Linked DNA regions of Homo sapiens. The protein of the gene in region 2 interacts with the protein of the main gene of each other region in a biochemical or structural test. Each region holds a gene or a part of one and is shown on either strand. Other genes may lie near its edges. The genes, in order: WDR4 and PTPN23.

Evidence for each region.
Region 1: the proteins of PTPN23 (region 2) and WDR4 form a complex in vitro, tested with the Homo sapiens proteins (one study listed by BioGRID).

What each region holds. Positions count from the first base shown.
Region 1 is NC_000021.9:42,876,093-42,884,909, forward strand, and holds the start of WDR4 (tRNA (guanine-N(7)-)-methyltransferase non-catalytic subunit WDR4), read right to left. Parts: upstream 3,448-8,817; 5' UTR 3,404-3,447; coding exon 3,315-3,403; exon of another isoform or gene 3,072-3,314; coding exon of another isoform or gene 2,995-3,071; exon of another isoform or gene 2,900-2,994; intron 676-2,899; coding exon 610-675; intron 1-609. UniProt on the Homo sapiens protein: Non-catalytic component of the METTL1-WDR4 methyltransferase complex required for the formation of N(7)-methylguanine in a subset of RNA species, such as tRNAs, mRNAs and microRNAs (miRNAs).
Region 2 is NC_000003.12:47,397,487-47,406,000, forward strand, and holds part of PTPN23 (tyrosine-protein phosphatase non-receptor type 23), read left to right. Parts: intron 1-7,165; coding exon 7,166-7,293; intron 7,294-7,518; coding exon 7,519-7,595; intron 7,596-8,262; coding exon 8,263-8,312; intron 8,313-8,428; coding exon 8,429-8,514. UniProt on the Homo sapiens protein: Plays a role in sorting of endocytic ubiquitinated cargos into multivesicular bodies (MVBs) via its interaction with the ESCRT-I complex (endosomal sorting complex required for transport I), and possibly also other ESCRT complexes.

The DNA.
Region 1 (8,817 bases), on a different chromosome or scaffold from region 2:
TAGAGATGGAGTTTCATCACATTGGCAAGGCTGGCTTTGAACTTCTGACCTCAGTCAGCACCCTGGCTTCCCAAAGTGCTGAGATTATAGGCATGAGCCACCGCACCCGGCACTAACACTGTACTCTTTTTTTTTTTGGGAGACAGAGTCTTGCTCTATTCCCCAGGCTGGAGTGCAATGCCGCAATCTCAGCTCTCTGCAACCTCCGCCTCCCAGGTTCAAGTGATTCTTGTGCCTCAGCCTCCCAAGTAGACGGGATTACAGGTGCCTGCCACCACGCCCAGCTAACTTTTTTATTTTTAGTAGAGACAGGGTTTCGCCATGTTGGCCAGGATGGTCTGGAAATTCTGACCTCAGGTGATCCACCCACCTTGGCCTCCCAAAGTGCTGGGATTACAGGCATAAGCCACCGTGCTCAGCCAACAATGTACTCTTAATGCCTAACCTAAAAGTTACTTTTACATGTCTCTCCTGAGGTGCTACTTATCTGCACCACTGTGTGACAGAAGCTAAGAATTCAGCAAGTAGGACAACAATTGCTTCTTAGACCCTCTGGTCCCATTATCGAACCATTAAAGCAGGCCCTGAAAAAGCTTCCCCACATCTCACCCTTTATTTTCTTGTGACTTCTTTTCTGCAGCACTGCAGTCATAGATGAAGAGGCTGTCATCATCACTAAAGAGAAATAACAATAATTTTAAAAGGAGTTATCATTAGAGAGAAATAACAAATTTTTTTTTTTTGAGACGGAGTTTCGCTCTCGTTGTCCAGGCTCCAGTACAATGGCACGATCTTGGCTCACCGCAACCTCCGCCTCCCAGGTTCAAACGATTCTCCTGCCTCAGCCTCCCCAGTAGCTGAGATTACAGGCATGCACCAGCACTCCCAGCTAATTTTTACTTTTTGTAGAAACGGGGTTTCTCCATGTTGATCAGGGTGATCTCAAATCCCCAACCTCAGGTGATCCACCAACCTCAGCCTCCCAAAGTGCTCACAGGTGTGAGCCACTGCGCCTGGCCCATGTGAGCCACTGCGCCTGGCCCTAATTTTTTTTTTTTTTTTTTTTTTTGAGTTGGAGTCTCGCTCTATCACTCAGGCTGGAGTGCAAGGGCATGATCTCAGGTCACTGCAACCTCCCCCTCCTGGATTCAAGCAATTCTCCCGCCTCAGCCTTCCCGGTAGCTGGAATTACAGGTATCTGCCACCACGCCTGGCTAATTTTTGTAGTTTTGGTAGAGACGGGGTTTCGCCATGTTGGCCAGGCTGGTCTCAAGCTCCTGACCTCAGATGATCTGCCCGCCTCAGCCTCCCAAAGTGCTGAGATTATAGGCAGAGCCACTGCGCCCAGCCTAACAATGATTTTTAAAAGAGCACTTTGTTAAAAAAAAAAAAAAAAAGTTGATTTTTTTTCTCTGTGGAACAAAAAATATTTGCACACTCATTAAATTAAAAGTTGTATACTTGACAAGAAAACTGTCTAGATACAATATTTCAGGGAACAGTTAACAAACTTTATTTGCTTAATCTCTTATTGGAGTACGTCATACTGCATAGTTCTGTGGGAAAAAAAAGTTCAGTAAAACAAATGAGGGATAAATACTCAACAGGAATTAATATGCTATTCTTTTAGGCACCACAAAATCTATGCGACATGGTTATAAGAAATTACGGGCCGGGCGCGGTGGTTCACGCCTGTAATCCCAGCACTTTGGGAGGCCGAGATGGGCGGATCACGAGGTCAGGAGATCGAGACCAGCCTGGCTAACACAGTGAAACCCCCATCTCCACTAAAAATATAAAAAATTAGCCAGGCATGGTGGCAGGCGCCTGCAGTCCCAACTACTCGGGAGGCTGAGGCAGGAGAATGGCGTGAACCCGGGAGGCGGAGCTTGCAGTGAGCCAAGATCGCGCCACTGCACTCCAGCCTGGGCGACAAAGCGAGACTCCTCAAAAAAAAAAAAAAAGAAAAAAAAGAAATTATGTTCTGATACTGTTGAGCGTTCAGTGGGATTCTGTATACAAATTTCAAAGAGCCATTACTATTTAGAAACATATCTCACCTACCTGAAAGTGTTCCCATGACCCCAGGCACTTACCAACATAAGAATCACCCATTTTCCATACTGAACCTAAACTTCGGTTTATCCCATCCTCACCCCCTGGCACGTATCTTGTACATATTTATAGCCTTTAAAGCGAGTGCACCAAAAAACTTTCCATATGGAACCGTGGACTTGTCTTCCAAGTCAGAAACTCCACCAGCCACTAGAATTTCCTCAAAATGCAAAGACTGAAGGTAAGCAAATCATGTCTAATATATCCACAGCTCACTCTGGCAGATATTAGACCGTGAGTCTCTAAAACAAAATCATCTGGGATATGTGACGGGTTTCTGAGTACAATTTTTGTGAGACCTAACTTAACATCGAATTGGCTTTCTAAAACCAAACGAACAAAAAATATACAGTATATCTGACAGACACGTCGTCCGTTTCAAATATGAAATCACAAATAACCTGGGAAAGGAAACGAGGGGCTGAAACTGACAGCACTACTAATTGCTCCGAGAGTCCTGAGTTAGGACTGTTCCATCAACAAACATTTACTAAGTTAAAAATCCCCTGCGTCGTCCTAGCACTGGCGATACACTAAGGAAGGAGAATAAAATTACGGAAAGCAAAACCCGAGCCGTGCGAAGGGCCACTAGGGAGGTGCGCACTGCGAGCTCCACGTGCACCCTTGGGTTGGGTAAGTGTCGGAGATGACTTGGAGCCCTAAGGAGCAATTAAGGCCAGGTGAGTGGATGCAGGCCGGGAAGAGGGAACAGACAACCCTGCAAAAAGAGGGAGCGCGCTTGGAGGTCAGTGAGCTCGCAGTGAGTAAGCCCCTCCCTTCTCACCAGGGAGACCCGAGACCCGCTTCTTCCCAGTTCTGCAGAGCGTGTTCGGCCGGGCCTTGCTGACTGGTCAGCGTCGCCCCACGTGCTCTACCTACCCGGTCCCCGCCGGCGCCGCGGAGACCGGAAGCGACCCGGCGGCGCTAACCGGGCAAGAACACCGCAGACCAGCCATCTAGTGCAAGGAGCGCGCCGGAGCCGGGGAGCGGACGCCGAGAGCGGACGGCGAAAGCGGACCCTCCAGGCGCAGAGACGCGGCCAGGCCGAGACTGCGGCGGAGGACTCGTGGGCTGGAGCGGAGTTCCCCGGGGTCACCCCAGAGTGGGTGCGACCAGGCGGTGCGGGAGAAGCGGGGTCGCCAGGACCCGACGCGCGCCCGCAGCCTGGTCTCCCTGTTCCAAGACCAAGGCCCCCTCACCTGCTTGCTATGGAGGTGGCCAGGAATCGGCTGCCGCCCCGCACCACCAACGTCTGCCCGCACAACGCCAGTCCCACAGAGCCCGCCATGTACCCGCCCGCCTCACCGCCATACACATGTGCCAGCCCAGAGCCTCTTCCTGTCCGCACCGGTCGGTGACGCCAGGCGCAGACGCCGAGAGATGACGTATACCCCACGTACCGCGCATGCTCAAGGACGAGCCTGCCTTGAGCATGCGTGAAAGGTGCTGTGACCGCCCTCCGGGTTGTGGCTGGTGGCCTTCGGTGTTTCGGGTTTGGCAGTTCACTCACCAAGGTGATCTGATGGAGTGCACTTCGCACGATTCCAAGTACTTGCCTAATGTTCATCCTTTCCTCTAGACGGGGTAGGGCTGGTTCTGGATCTTTTTCCGCGGTAGCTGGAGAGACGTAGGACCTGATGATGGCTACTAGATGCCTGGTAAATGATCCTTCAAGAAGTGAATGAACCGGGGGCCGTGGCTCACATGAAGTCAGCAGTTCGAGAGCAGCCTGACCAATATGGTGAAACCCCGTTTCTACTAAAAGTACAAAAATTTGTTGGGCGTGGTGGCGTGCGACTGTAGCCCCAACTACTTGGGAGGCTGAGACAGAAGAATTGCCTGAACCCGGGAGGCGGAGGTTGCAGTGAGTCGAGATCGCCCCCGCTGCACTCCAGCCAGGGCGACAGAGCGAGACTCTCTCTCAAAAAAAAAAAAAATGTCCAAGATGTGGTCATGGGTGAGGGTGTCTCGGGTGGCGTCAAGTCTGAGGTCGCTAGAAGTAAGCCTACTGAATCTTTGCACTTAGACAAGCCACAGATGCCTTAAAATCTCCGAACTGTAGTGATATTTTCAACCCAAACTATGGTTAGTTTCCAGTGTTCATCCCAAGATCCCCAAAAGCCTCTTACAATCCCAGCATCAGGCACAAAATCTAGGATCTCACGGTCTGTTTTAGATTGGCTTGTCCGGTGCAGCTCCTCTTGATCCAGAGACTTACAAACTAAAAAGATTAATTTTCTCTCCCGTGCACGCAATATATGATGGTGAGCCGGGACCAGATAACCACAATAAATACTTGCATGTGAAAATGAGAAGAGGAGGAGACACAGTAATCACTGGTCCAAAGCAATTCTGAAATCCTACTGGAAGATGTTTTCAGGCCCTACAAGAATAAGAAGTCTTAACCAGGCCCGAGTTCTGCTTCCTGGGAGTATCTCCCCAGGCTGTATCTCAGCACAGCTCTTGCCTCTGCCCTCTTGGGTGTCCCTCCTTTTCCAGCACCTTCTTGGCCATGTTGAAGAATGTGCCCTTTGAGAAACTTTCTCAACCTCCTTCCTGTCATTAGCAAATTGTGAGCCCACAGACCTTTTTTCACTCTAAACTGTTCTGTCCACATTTTGGCAGCTGGTGGTGCTTTGTTCACTACAAGTCCCTTAAAAGCTTTATGGGCTTCTCAAGAATCTGATTCAGGTGCTCTCCATGCCCAAGAAGCCACTCCCACTAGTCTTTTTTTTTTTTTTAGACGGAGTCTCGCTCTGTCGCCCAGGCTGAAGTGCAACCTCCACCTCCCGAGTTCACGCCATTCTCCTGCCTCAGCCTCCTGAGTAGCTGGGACTACAGGCGCCCGCCACCACGCCTGGCTAATTTTTTGTATTTTTCAGTGGAGACGGGGTTTCACCATGTTAGCCAGGATGTTCTGGATCTCCTGACCTTGTGATCCGCCTGCCTCGGCCTCCCAAAGTGCTGGGATTACAGGCGTGAGCCACCGCGCCCAGCCACTTGTTAACATTTAAATCATTGAGATCACCTTGACTTCAGCATTATTCTTAAGGCCATATTTTATTAGCGCCACTCTGAATTTGATCTTTGGCCCAGGTTATGACTTACTTTGAGAACTTGTTACCAACTATTGGGTCTAATAATACTTTCCCCAGCTTCAACCCAAAGTGTGCTCTAAATTCTGCTGGCCAGTTTGTTTGTTTGTTTGTTTTTAACCACACTCTTTTCTATAAGTGTCTCAACATATTCAAGCAAAAGAAACACAGGTTAATCTCAACATTATACTGATATGATCTTTTTCAAGTCCCAGAGTTCAGTAGTTGCCTTTTTCTCTGCCCATCTTACTGAAGGGCAACAATTTTACAAATCCTTCACCGTGACATAGAGTTGTTCACCATTTGTCCACCTCCCGTAGTTTTCCTCACCATTGTTCCAGTGTTCACTACCAGTTTCCCCACTGCTTTTCCAGACTTCTAGTCCAAAGCTAATGCCACATGTTACAGTAGCACCTACTGCTAGGTACAAATGTCTGTAGCATGCATATCTTCCTTGTAGTCCTAGATATAGATCAACAAGCTCATAAAAACTATGGCTTTCTTTTTTTCTTTTTTTTTGAGGCGGAGTTTCACTCTTGTTGCCCAGGCTGGAGTGCAATGGCGTGATCTCCGCTCACCAAAACCTCTGCCTCCCGGGTTCAAGCGATTCTGCATCAGCCTCCCAAGTAGCTGGAATTACAGGCATGTGCCACCGTGCCCAGCTAATTTTGTATTTTTAGTAGAGACGGGGTTTCACCATGTTGGCCAGGCTGGTCTCAAACTCCTGACCTCAATTGATTCTCCTACCTTGGCCTCCCAAAGTGCTGGGATTACAGGCGTGATCCATGATCCATGTTAGTCAGGCTGGTCTCAAACTCCTGACCTCAGGTGATCTGCCCGCCTCGGCCTCCCAAAGTGTTGGGATTACAGGCGTGAGCCACTGCACCCGGCCCAACTATGGCCATTTTTATAAATCATTGATTACATTAGCCTAGAGTGAGTGTGGGCTTTCTTTTTCAATTAAGAAACTTATGGATTGGCCGGGTGCAGTGGCTCACACCTGTAATCCCAACACTTTAGGAGGCCAAGGCGAGCAGATCACCTGAGGTCAGGAGTTTGAGACCAGCCTGGCCAACACGGTGAAACCCCATCTCTACTAAAAATACAAAAATTAGCTGGGCTTGGTGGCATGCACCTGTAATCCCAGCTACTCAGAAGGCTGAGGCAGGAGAATCACTAGAACCCAGGAGGTGGAGGTTACAGTGAGCCAAGATCACCCATTGCATTCCAGCCTGGGCAACAAGGGTGAAACTCCATCTCAGAAAAAAGAAAAAAAAAACTTATGGATTGTTGTGTTGTATTTCTAGTCCTGTCCTGAGCAAAAGGTATTAGGAACCTGAGAATCCTTCCATTAGCACAATAGAAAAATGGGCAAAAAGGCCAGGCACGGTGACTCACACCTGTAATCCCAGCACTTTGGGAGGCCAAGGTAGGAGAATCAATTGAGGTCAGAAGTTTGAGACCAGCCTGGCCAACATGGGGAAACCCCATCTCTACTAAAAATACAAAAATCAGGCTGGGCGCAGTGGCTAACGCCTGTAATCCCAGCACTTTGAGAGGCCAAGGCAGGTGGATCATCTGAGGTCAGGAGTTTGAGACCAGCCTGGCCAACATAGTGAAACCCCGTCTGTACTAAAAATACAAAAATTAGCCGGGCATGGTGGCGGACGCCTGTAGTCCCAGCTACTTGGGAGGCTGAGGCAGGACAACCGCTTGAACGTGGGAGGTGGAGGTTGCAATAAGCCGAGATCATGCCACTGCACTCCAGCCTGGGTGACGGAGCAAGACTCCGTCTCAAAAAAAAAAAAAAAAAAATAGAAAAATCAGCTGGGAGTGGTGGTGCGTGCCTGTAGTCCCAGATACTCAGGAGGCTGAGGTACGAGAATCACTTGAACCGAGGAGGTGGAGATTGCAGTGAGCCGAGATTGCGCCACTGCACTCCAACCCGAGTAACAGAGTGAGACTCTGTCTCAAAAAAAAAAAAAAAAAGAAAAATGGGCAAGAAGTTACCCTTTTTTTTTTTTTTTTTACAAACTGGCAAGACGACATAAGCATTGTCTTATGGTCCTTCAGTTAAAAAAAAAATTGTGTAAAAACAAAAATGGACAAAGACCCATTAATTTCATGGTGGTTGTAGTGGGTTGAAAGGTGGCCCCCTAAAATGTATGTCCACCCCTGGAAACTGGGGATGTGACCTTTTTTGGGGAAAGGGTCTTTTCTAATGTGATTAAGTTAAGGATTGCAAAATGAGAGCATCCTGGATTTGGGTGGACCCTAAATCGAATGTTATGTGTACTGAGAAGAGAAGGGAGAAGACAGAGGAGAATGCCAGATGAAGACAGAAACAGAGATTGAAGTTATGTGGCCATAATTCAAGGATTGCTGGCAACACCAGAAGCCAAGAGAAAGATGAGGAAGAATTCTCCCCTAGACCTTTCAGAAGGAGCGTGGCCCAGCCAACACCCTGACTTCAGACTTCTGGCCTCCAGAACTGTGAGAATAAATTCTTACTGTTGTAATCCACCTGATATGTGGTAATGTGTACATTTCAGTGGGTTTTAGTATATATACAGAATTGTGCATCCATCACCACAATTTTAGAACATTTTCATCACCCACAAAATAAATCTTAAACCCAGTAGCAGTCACTCCCCCTTTCACCCTCCCCATAAACCCCTGGTAACCATTAATCTACTTTGTTTTATGGATTTTGCTAGTCTGGACATTTCATATAATCTGGCTTCTGTCACTGAATATTAGGTTTCCAAGGTTCATGGATATTGTAGCATGTATCAGTACTTCACTGCTTTTCATGGCCGAATAATATTCCACTGAATGCATATATCACATATATCACATTTTGTTTATCTGCTCATTGGTTGATAGGCAGTTTGGGATTTCCCACCTTTTGGCTATAATGAATAATGGTGTTGTGAACATTCCACTGGGAATGGAATTGTTGAGTCATATGGTAACATTTAAACTTTTCAGGAACTGGCCAGGTGTGGTGGATTGAACCTGGGAGGTAGAGGTTGCAATGAGCTGAGATTGCGCCACTGCACTCCAGCCTGGGTGATGGATCACACCTGTAATCCCAGCACTTTGGGAGGCCGAGGTGGGTGGATCACAAGGTCAGGAGTTCGAAATCAGCCTGACCAACATTGTGAAACCCCACTTCTACTAAAAATACAAAAATTAGCTGGTCGTGGTGTTGCGTACCTGTAATCCCAGCTACTCAGGAGGCTGAGGCAGGAGAATCACTTGAACCCGGGAGGCAGAGGTTGCAGTGAGCCGAGATCACGCCATTGCACTCCAGCCTGGGCAACAGAGCCAGACTCCACCTCAAAAAAAAAAAAGTCCTTTTCAGGGACCGCCAAGCTGATTCACAAAGTGGCTACAGCACTTTATAGTCCCACCAGCACTACATTGTGGTTCCAGTTTCTCCACATCCTCACCATCACTTGTTATTATGTCTTTTTTGTTTGTTTTTTTCCGACAGAGTCTCACTGTGTCCCCCAGTCTGAAGTGCAATGGTGCAATCCAGCTCACTGCAACCTCCCTCTCTGAGCTTCAAGTGATTCTCCTGCCTCAGCCTCCCAAGTAGCTG
Region 2 (8,514 bases):
AACTTGAGTACCAGTAATGTAGATACATGCCATAGAAATCAGTAGCTGTTAGTGTTTTCTTGTCTATCATGGACCACATACCAATCCTTGCAATAACCCAGCAGTACTAGCAACTATTGCCAGTATACTACCCATCAGTAAATTTTTGGATACATTTTCATTTAGTCTACTGAGTGAAGATATTTTCTTTTTTCTTTTTCTGAGACCTAGTCTTACTCTGTCACCCAGGCTGGAGTGCAATGGCGCGATCTCAGCTCACTGCAACCTCTACCTCCCAGGTTCAAGTGATTCTCCTGTCTCAGCCTCCTAAGTAGCTGGGACTACAGGCGCCCACCACCACGCCCGGCTAATTTTTTGTATTTTTAGTAGAGACAGGATTTCAACATGTTGGCCAGGCTGGTCTCGACCTCCTGACCTCAGGTAATCCACCTGTCTCGGCTTCCCAAATTGCTGGGATTACAGGTGTGAGCCACCGCGCCCCGCCTGGTGAAGATATTTTCTATGTCAGTTATTCAAAATTAGTACAAGGCCAGGTGCAGTGGCTCACGCCTGTAATGCTATCACTTTGGGAGGCTGAGGCAGGTGGATCACTTGAAATCAGGAGTTCGAGACCAGCCTGGCCAACATGGCGAAACCCCCTCTCTACGAAAAATACAAAAATTAGTCGGGCATGGTAGCAGCGCATGCCTGTAATCCCAGCTACTAGGGAGGCTAAGGCAGGAAAATTACTTGAACCCAGGAGGTGGAGGTTGCAGTGAGCCAAGATCGCACCCCTGCATCCAGCCTGGGCAACAGAGTGAGACTGTCTCAAAAAAGAAAAGCTAGAAATTATTACACTTAGTAAGGAAGGCACGTGAAAAACTGAGATAGGCCAAAAGCTAGGCCTCTTGCACCAGATCACCAAGTTAGGAATGCAAAGAAAAAATTCTTGAAGGAAATTAAAAAAGAATCGAATGATGTCATATCTCTGGATATCAGATTCTCCCCCTTCCCCGGGATTTGCTGGGTTTTTTTGTGTGTTTTTGATTGTTGTAGGCTACCCCTGTGCCAAGAATCAGCCTGAAATGTAAACTTAAAGTTTTTTTTTTTTTTTTCCCGAGACAGGGTTTCGCTCTGTCGTCCAGGCAGGAGTGCAGTGGCACAATCACGGCTCACTGCAGCCTCCATCTCCCCAGTTCAAACCATCCTCCCACTGCAGCCCCCAAGTAGCTGGGACTACAAGTGCACACCACCGCATCCAGCCAATTTTTAAATTTTTTGTAGAGATGGGGTTCCCCTGTGTTGCCCAGGCTGGTCTCAAACTCCTGGGCTCAAGTGATCTTCTGGCCCCAGCCTCCCAAAGTGTTGGGATTAAAGGCATGAGCCGCAGCACCCGGCCTTGTAAACTTAAGGTCTTCACAGGTCTTTTCTGAGCCTGTACCATTCCCTGCACATGTGCAGACTTTCTCATTTGCCCTATATATGTGGTTGCTTTTGAACATCTTACTCTTTAGTGTCTGCCTCCCAAAGGAGGAAAAAGAGAAAAATGAAGAAGGGAAAAGATGCCAGGCCTTTAGATCCCTTGGAAGTTCCTTCAGCTAGAGGTGAAGAAGCTTACAGCCGTGGAGGGAGGTGCAATAGTGGAGGAGCTGCCTCTTTCTCTGTACCTCTGTGATCAGAAGCAGCAATCAGCAAGATCTCCTGTATTTGGAGGACAGAGTCCTTTTTGTCCATGCTGGCTCCCACAAGCTGCTCCTGGAACTGGTGCTGGGGGTGGGGGATGGGTGGCTGCTACTATGGTAGGGGCTGAAATTGACCAAAATTAATGGCAGTGAGCTGTACTGTCAAAGCCTTTGCCTAGAAGTTGCAAGCCTTTAATAGACTCCAGAGTTAAGTCAGATTCTGCCAGTGCAGCTTGTCTTGGTGGGGAGACCAAGCTTCTTCTTATGCTGTCTTCTCAGAACCCTCCTCATAAGTTGAATCTTTAAAAAGGGTTTATTTGAACAAAGTTTGAAAACTAGTGAGATAATCTTAGCCCCTGGGGCAACCGTCATTTTGCACACACAGGCACACACTACACACAAGGACGCAACACACCCTAGAAGGAGCATTACCACCAATCTCCAAAGCATCCTCTGAGACATATCCTCCAAAGCATAAGGCAGGCAACCTGCACAGAGCAATGGGCTGGGTAGAGCAGCCCCTGAGAGAGCTGTGAGCCAGCAGCCTTCAGACCTGTGCTTTTCCAGTGCGAAAAAAGCTCACACATGGCCATCTGGGGTAGCCACTTCCCCTTCCTGGGACTTGGTTTAATTTATCCCAGCAATGTGGGAGTTGGACTAGATCACTGTTTTTTTTGTTTTTGTTTTTAAAGACAGAGTCTCACTCTGTCACCCAGGCTGGGGTGCAGTCTATCTTGGCTCATTGCAACGTCTGCCTCCTGGATTCAAGCGATCCTCCTACCTCAGCCTCCTGAGTACCTGGGACAAGTATGCACCACCATGCCTGGCTAATTTTTGTATTTTTTGTAGACATGGAGTCTCGTATATTCCCCAGGCTGGTCTTAAACTACTGGCCTCAAGCAATCCTCTGCCTCAGCCTCCGAAAATGCTGGGATTACAGGCGTGAGTCACCACGCCTAGTCTAGATCACTGTTCCTTATACTTGTGAAACCCCAGAACAAATTTTCTTACATAGGACGTTGATAATAATCTTTCAGTGAAAAAGTTATTGGAAGCTTTAGGCAGTCCTCTTTCCCTGATCTGAGCCTCAGTTTCCTCATCTGTAAAACCAGGGTTTGAATAGTTGTTTCTAGGAAGACTTTCCTTTTTAAACTCTGAAATAAATTCTTGGCTCTGTGATTACAGGGAATAAAACTGACAGGTGCAGGGGATGCTATGGGGGCATCACAGCATCAAGCTCTCTCTCAGACTCCTCTGTGCGGCTCTGCGCAGCTCGTCTGAGAGTCTGACAGACCAGGCTAGAACCACAGGGGGCTGCATTCTTGGGTGGATTAAAGGGTACAGGTGATCTCTTGGATCTGGAGGGGAGACTGCTTCCATTGTTTCCCAAAGATGGTTTTAGGAAGTACAAGACAAATTTTATTTTATTATTTATTTATTTTTGACACAGAGTTTCACTCCTATTGCCCAGGGTGGAGTGCAATGGCACAACCTCGGCTCACCACAACCTCTGCCTCCAGGGTTCAAGCGATTCTCCTGCCTCAGCCTCCCGAGTAGCTGGGATTACAGGCACTCGCCATCACGCCCAGCTATATTTTGTATTTTTAGTAGAGACAGGGTTTCTCCATGTTGGCCAGACTGGTCTCAAACTCTCAACCTCAGGTGATCCACCCGCCTTGGCCTCCCAAAGTGCTGGGATTATAGGTGTGAGCCACAGCACCCGGCTTTTATTTTATTTTATTTTATTTATTTTGTTTTATTATTTTATTTTTTGAGATGGAGTCTCACTCTGTTGCCCAGGCTGGAGTGCAGTGGCGCAATCTCGGCTTACTGCAAGCTCCGCCTCCCGGGTTCACGCCATTCTTCTGCCTCAGCCTCCCAAGTAGCTGGGACTACAGGTGCCCGTCACCATGCCTGGCTAATTTTTGTATTTTTAGTAGAGACAGGGTTTCACCTTGTTAGCCAGGGTGGTCTTGATCTCCTGACCTCGTGATCCGCCTGCCTCGGCCTCCCAAACTGCTGGGATTACAGGCGTGAGCCACTGCGTCCGGCCTTTTATTTTATTTTTTGAGATAGGGTCTCACTCTGTTGCCCAGGCTGAAGTGCAGTGGCATGATCATGGCTCACTGCAGCCTCCACCTCCCAGGCTCAATCACTTCTCCCCCTTCCCAAGCCTGTAGTCCTGAGTAGCTGGGACTACAGGTATGCATCACCGCACCTGGCCAATTTTTGTATTTTTTGTAGAGGCGGAGTCTCGCCATGTTCTTCAGGCTGGTCTCAAAATCCTGGGCTCAAGTGATCCTCCCACTTTGGCCTCCCAAAGTGCTGGGATTATAGGCATGAGCCACCATGCCCGGCCAAGATTTTTCAATACTTTTATATGTGCTATTTTAGTGAGTATTGAAAAAAACTGTGTGGCTAGCGCATCACACCTGTGATTTTAGAGCTGTTATTGCTTAGGATGTGGCTCTTAATTTTAAAAATGGATTGTTTAAAGAAAAATGTTAAGTACAAGTGGTATTTGGATATGGCAGAGGTCATGATGGAGGGGTATGATAAGAATGACTAGATTTGAGAAGCATTGGCCTAATGCTGTGAGCTGCAGCTGTGACATGCCTTATCCTTGCACTGGGCATTCTAGAAGCCTCACTACCAGGGAGATTATCATCCCTGTTTAAAGAAGAGACTGAGTTTCAGAGTCTCCCAAGACACTGCTGGGAAGTGGTGTAGAGTACAACTGGTGCCTGACTTTTCTGTTCCACTGTCCCCAGGGTGTATGTACCCCATCTGAGAGCATCCCTGCTGGCAGCTCAGAGCCGAGCTCCCAGAGTGGAGTGTCCTGGAGGATTTCTTCTGGCTAAGTCCTAGTGAGAGGCTCTGGTCCTCTCTGCAGGGGGCTGAGGGCAGACAGGTGTCAAGCCATCCCCCTCACTGTGCACCTGCTCCTTGGAGGGTGTATTGTTTGCTTTTCTGTTTGTTTAAGCAGAGGGTTCATTTTTTTGTTGTTTTCCCCCCAAAATAATAGCTCTGTTGTTTATCATAAATATTGAAAATGTTTAATATAAATACATAAACAATATGAAGAATTAAATACATGTCTGTCAGATGTATACATATTTATCTATTTATTTATTATTATTATTATTATTTGAGACCGAGTCTCACTCTGTCACCCAGGCTGGAGTGCAGTGGTGCAACCTCAGCTCACTGCAACTTCTGCTCCCCGGATTCAAGTGATTCTCCTGCCTCAGCCTCCTGAGTAGCTGGAATTACAGGTGCGCACCATCATGCCTGGCTACTTTTTGTGTTTTTAGTAGATACGGGGTTTCACCACGTTGCCCAGGCTGGTCTCGAATTCCTGGGCTCAAGCGATCCACCCGCCTCAGCCTCCCAAAGTGTTGGGATTATAGGCGTGAGCCACCTCGCCCAGCCATATCTATCTATTTATATAGAATAAGATAAATTACTTAAATCCTGTCATTCAGCGATAATCACGGTTAACATTATGGTGTACAGTCTTCTGAATTTTCTTTTTGTTTATGTACCTATTTGTGGGTTTTTTTGTTTTTTCTTTTGAGACAGAGTTTTTCTCTTGTTGCCCAGCCTGGAGTGCAATGGCATGATCTCAGCTCACTGCAACCTCCGCCTCCCAGATTCAAACGATTCTCTTGCCTAAGCCTCCCGAGTAGCTGGGATTACAGGCACACACCACCACACCCAGCTAATTTTTGTATTTTTAGTAGAGACGGGGTTTCACCATGTTGGCCAGGCTGGCATCGAACTCCTGACCTTAGGTGATCCATCCGCCTTGGCCTCCCAAAGTGCTAGGATTATGGGCGTGAGCCACCTTGCCTGGCCTGTGTACCCATTTGGATATCAGTATTTGTATGATCCCATTTGTTACATTCTTTTTTTTTTTTTTTGAGACGGAGTCTCGCTGTCGCCCAGGCTGGAGTGCAGTGGCGCGATTTCGGCTCACTGCAGGCTCCGCCCCCCGGGGGTTCACGCCATTCTCCTGCTTCAGCCTCCCTAGTAGCTGGGTCTACAGGTGCCTGCCACCACGTCCGGCTAATTTTTTGTATTTTTAGTAGAGACGGGGTTTCACCGTGTTAGCCAGGATGGTCTCGATCTCCTGACCTCGTGATCCTCCCGCCTCGGCCTCCGAAAGTGCTGGGATTACAGGCGTGAGCCACTGCACCTGGCCACATTCTTTTCTTTTTTTTTTCCCCCAATAGCATGCCATAGGCATCTTAACATATGAGTAACTAGAGACTCTTGTCTTTAGTTTTCATGGCTGCAGCATATTCTCTTGTGAGGCGCCTTGACATAATTAATTTAAAACAGTCCCCTTTAGTGGGAATTTTGGTGGGTATCCAGTTTTACCTTTTGCTTTTTTTGAGAGACAGGGTCTTGCTTCATCACCCAGGCTGGAAAACAGTGGCACAACCATAGCTCACTGCAGCCTTAACCTCCCAGGCTCAATCGATCTTTTCCCGTCGGCCTCCCAAGGAGCTGGGACCAAAGGCACCATCACGCCTAGATAATTTTTAAAATTCTTTTTTGTTGAGACAGGGTCTTGCTACATTGCCCAGACTGGTATCTAACTCCTGGCCTCAAGCGATCCTCCCACCTTGGCCTCCCAAAATGCTGGGACCACATGTGTGAGCCCCTGCACCTGACCTGGAGTCCAGTTTTTGACCCTGGTAATAATGCTGTGATGAATATCCTTGCGTTCATATCCAAGCATTTGCTTTCCTGGAAGTCTGTTACTGTAAACTTTTAGATACAGAACTGTAGGTCATGCTGAGTGTGGCAGCTCACACCTTTAATCCCATCACTTTGGGAGGTAGAGATGGGAGGATCACTTGAGCCCAGGAGTTTGAGAACAGCCTGGGCAACATGGCAAAACCCTGTCTCTATTAAATTCAAAAAACTGTGGGCCAAAAGTTAAGTAGAGTAAAAAACTTAAAACATGTTGCAAACTGCTTTTCAGATGTTTGAGATGGGCTGGGCACAGTGGCTCATGCCTGTAATCCCAGCACTTTGAGAGGCTGAGGCGGGTGGATCACAAGGTCAAGTGTTCGAGACCAGCCTGGCCAAAATGGGGAAACCCCGCCTCTACTAAAAATACAAAATTAGCCAGGCATGGTGGCGTGTGCCTGTAGTCTCAGCTAATTGGGAGGCTGAGGCAGGAGAATTGCTTGAACCCAGGAGGTTGCAGTGAATACTGCATTCCAGCCTGGGTGACAGAATGAGACTCTTTTTTTTTTTTTTTTTTAAAAAAGGAAAAACTATGTGGGATAGATTCAGTCGGCCAGCTGCCAGCCCTGGCTTGTGGAATGTTTTGTTGAACGACTATAGGTATAGCCATGGACTTTTTGGGATCCCTTGGTGTGTGCAGTCGGCCAGCTGTGATGCATTTTCCTGGCATTTGTGAGTTAGCTGGCCTGCGTGTCCACTGCCCCATATGACAACAGGCCTGCTTCTCCCATCCTGCCCCCCAGAATGCTGTCCGTGTCCCACGAGACTTTGAGGGCTGTAGTGTCCTCCGCAAGTACCTCGGCCAGCTTCATTACCTGCAGAGTCGGGTCCCCATGGGCTCGGGCCAGGAGGCCGCTGTCCCTGTCACCTGGTGAGAGCCGCAGGCAGGGCTGGAGGATCCCACGGGGAGTCTGGGTGGTGGGGGTGCTCCTCCCCTCCCTTCCCCCTTCTCCTTGCTGCATAGGATGGGGAATGGCCTCATATGGTCCCCCCAGGCCTCCCCACATCCCCACAATGGGGTGTTTAGTCCCCTTACCTAATCTCAGGGCCCTGGCTAGCTCCTGCCCTCGAGATAACTGGGGTGCCATGTCTGCAGGACAGAGATCTTCTCAGGCAAGTCTGTGGCCCATGAGGACATCAAGTACGAGCAGGCCTGTATTCTCTACAACCTTGGTGAGCTGCCTGATCCCTTCCCCCGGCCCTACTCCCCAGTCCTGCCAGCCTAGCTTTCAGCTCTTCAGATGGCCACAAAGGCAGTGGGCTGATAAAGGGAGGACTCCAGGATTCCCGCCCCTCCACTGACCTCCCCACAGCCCTGCCAGCTCCTCCACTGTTTTCTGGGCTGGGCCCGTGGGGAGCCTCTGCTGGGGCGAGGCTCTACTGGGCTGGCTGCCACACAGAGTTGCCACTGTGTGCTCTGTCTGGGAGAGAGGGCCTTTCTTCTTTGACTGGACAGCCCCTCCCCACTGTGGTTTTGGGCTGCTTCAGGCAGGAGGAGAGTGTGGCTGGCCTCAGCTTACCCTGCTAGTCAGCCTTAGCCTGGCTCAAGGGAGAAGCTTGGGGAGCCCCAGAGTTCTGTGCAAACATCCCTGAAGCTTCAAGATTGGACCCCTTGGACAGGAGCCCTTCCATCCTCTGCCAAATGCAGAGCAGGAGACTGAGGGCTGGGCAGGACTTCTGAGTTTCCCTGTTCCCTCCAGCTTGGGTGTCCTTGGACTCGTTGCCCTGGTTCTCAGAGCCATGTTGTCCTGATTGTGGATAACAGCAGTGCCCCCTCTGTCTCACCTTCACATGGGTGTGAGCAGCCCCAGGCCCCTAACACTGTCCCCTCCCTCCCCAGGAGCGCTGCACTCCATGCTGGGGGCCATGGACAAGCGGGTGTCTGAGGAGGTGAGGAGAGGGGCAGTAGTGGAACATGTGGACATACCAGGGAGGGGCAGCCTCCCAAGTATGGATGAATCCTGACCCATGGAGTGGACACAGGCCATCCTCCCACTCCCTCCCAGGGCATGAAGGTCTCCTGTACCCATTTCCAGTGCGCAGCCGGCGCCTTCGCCTACCTACGGGAGCACTTCCCTCAAGCCTACAGCGT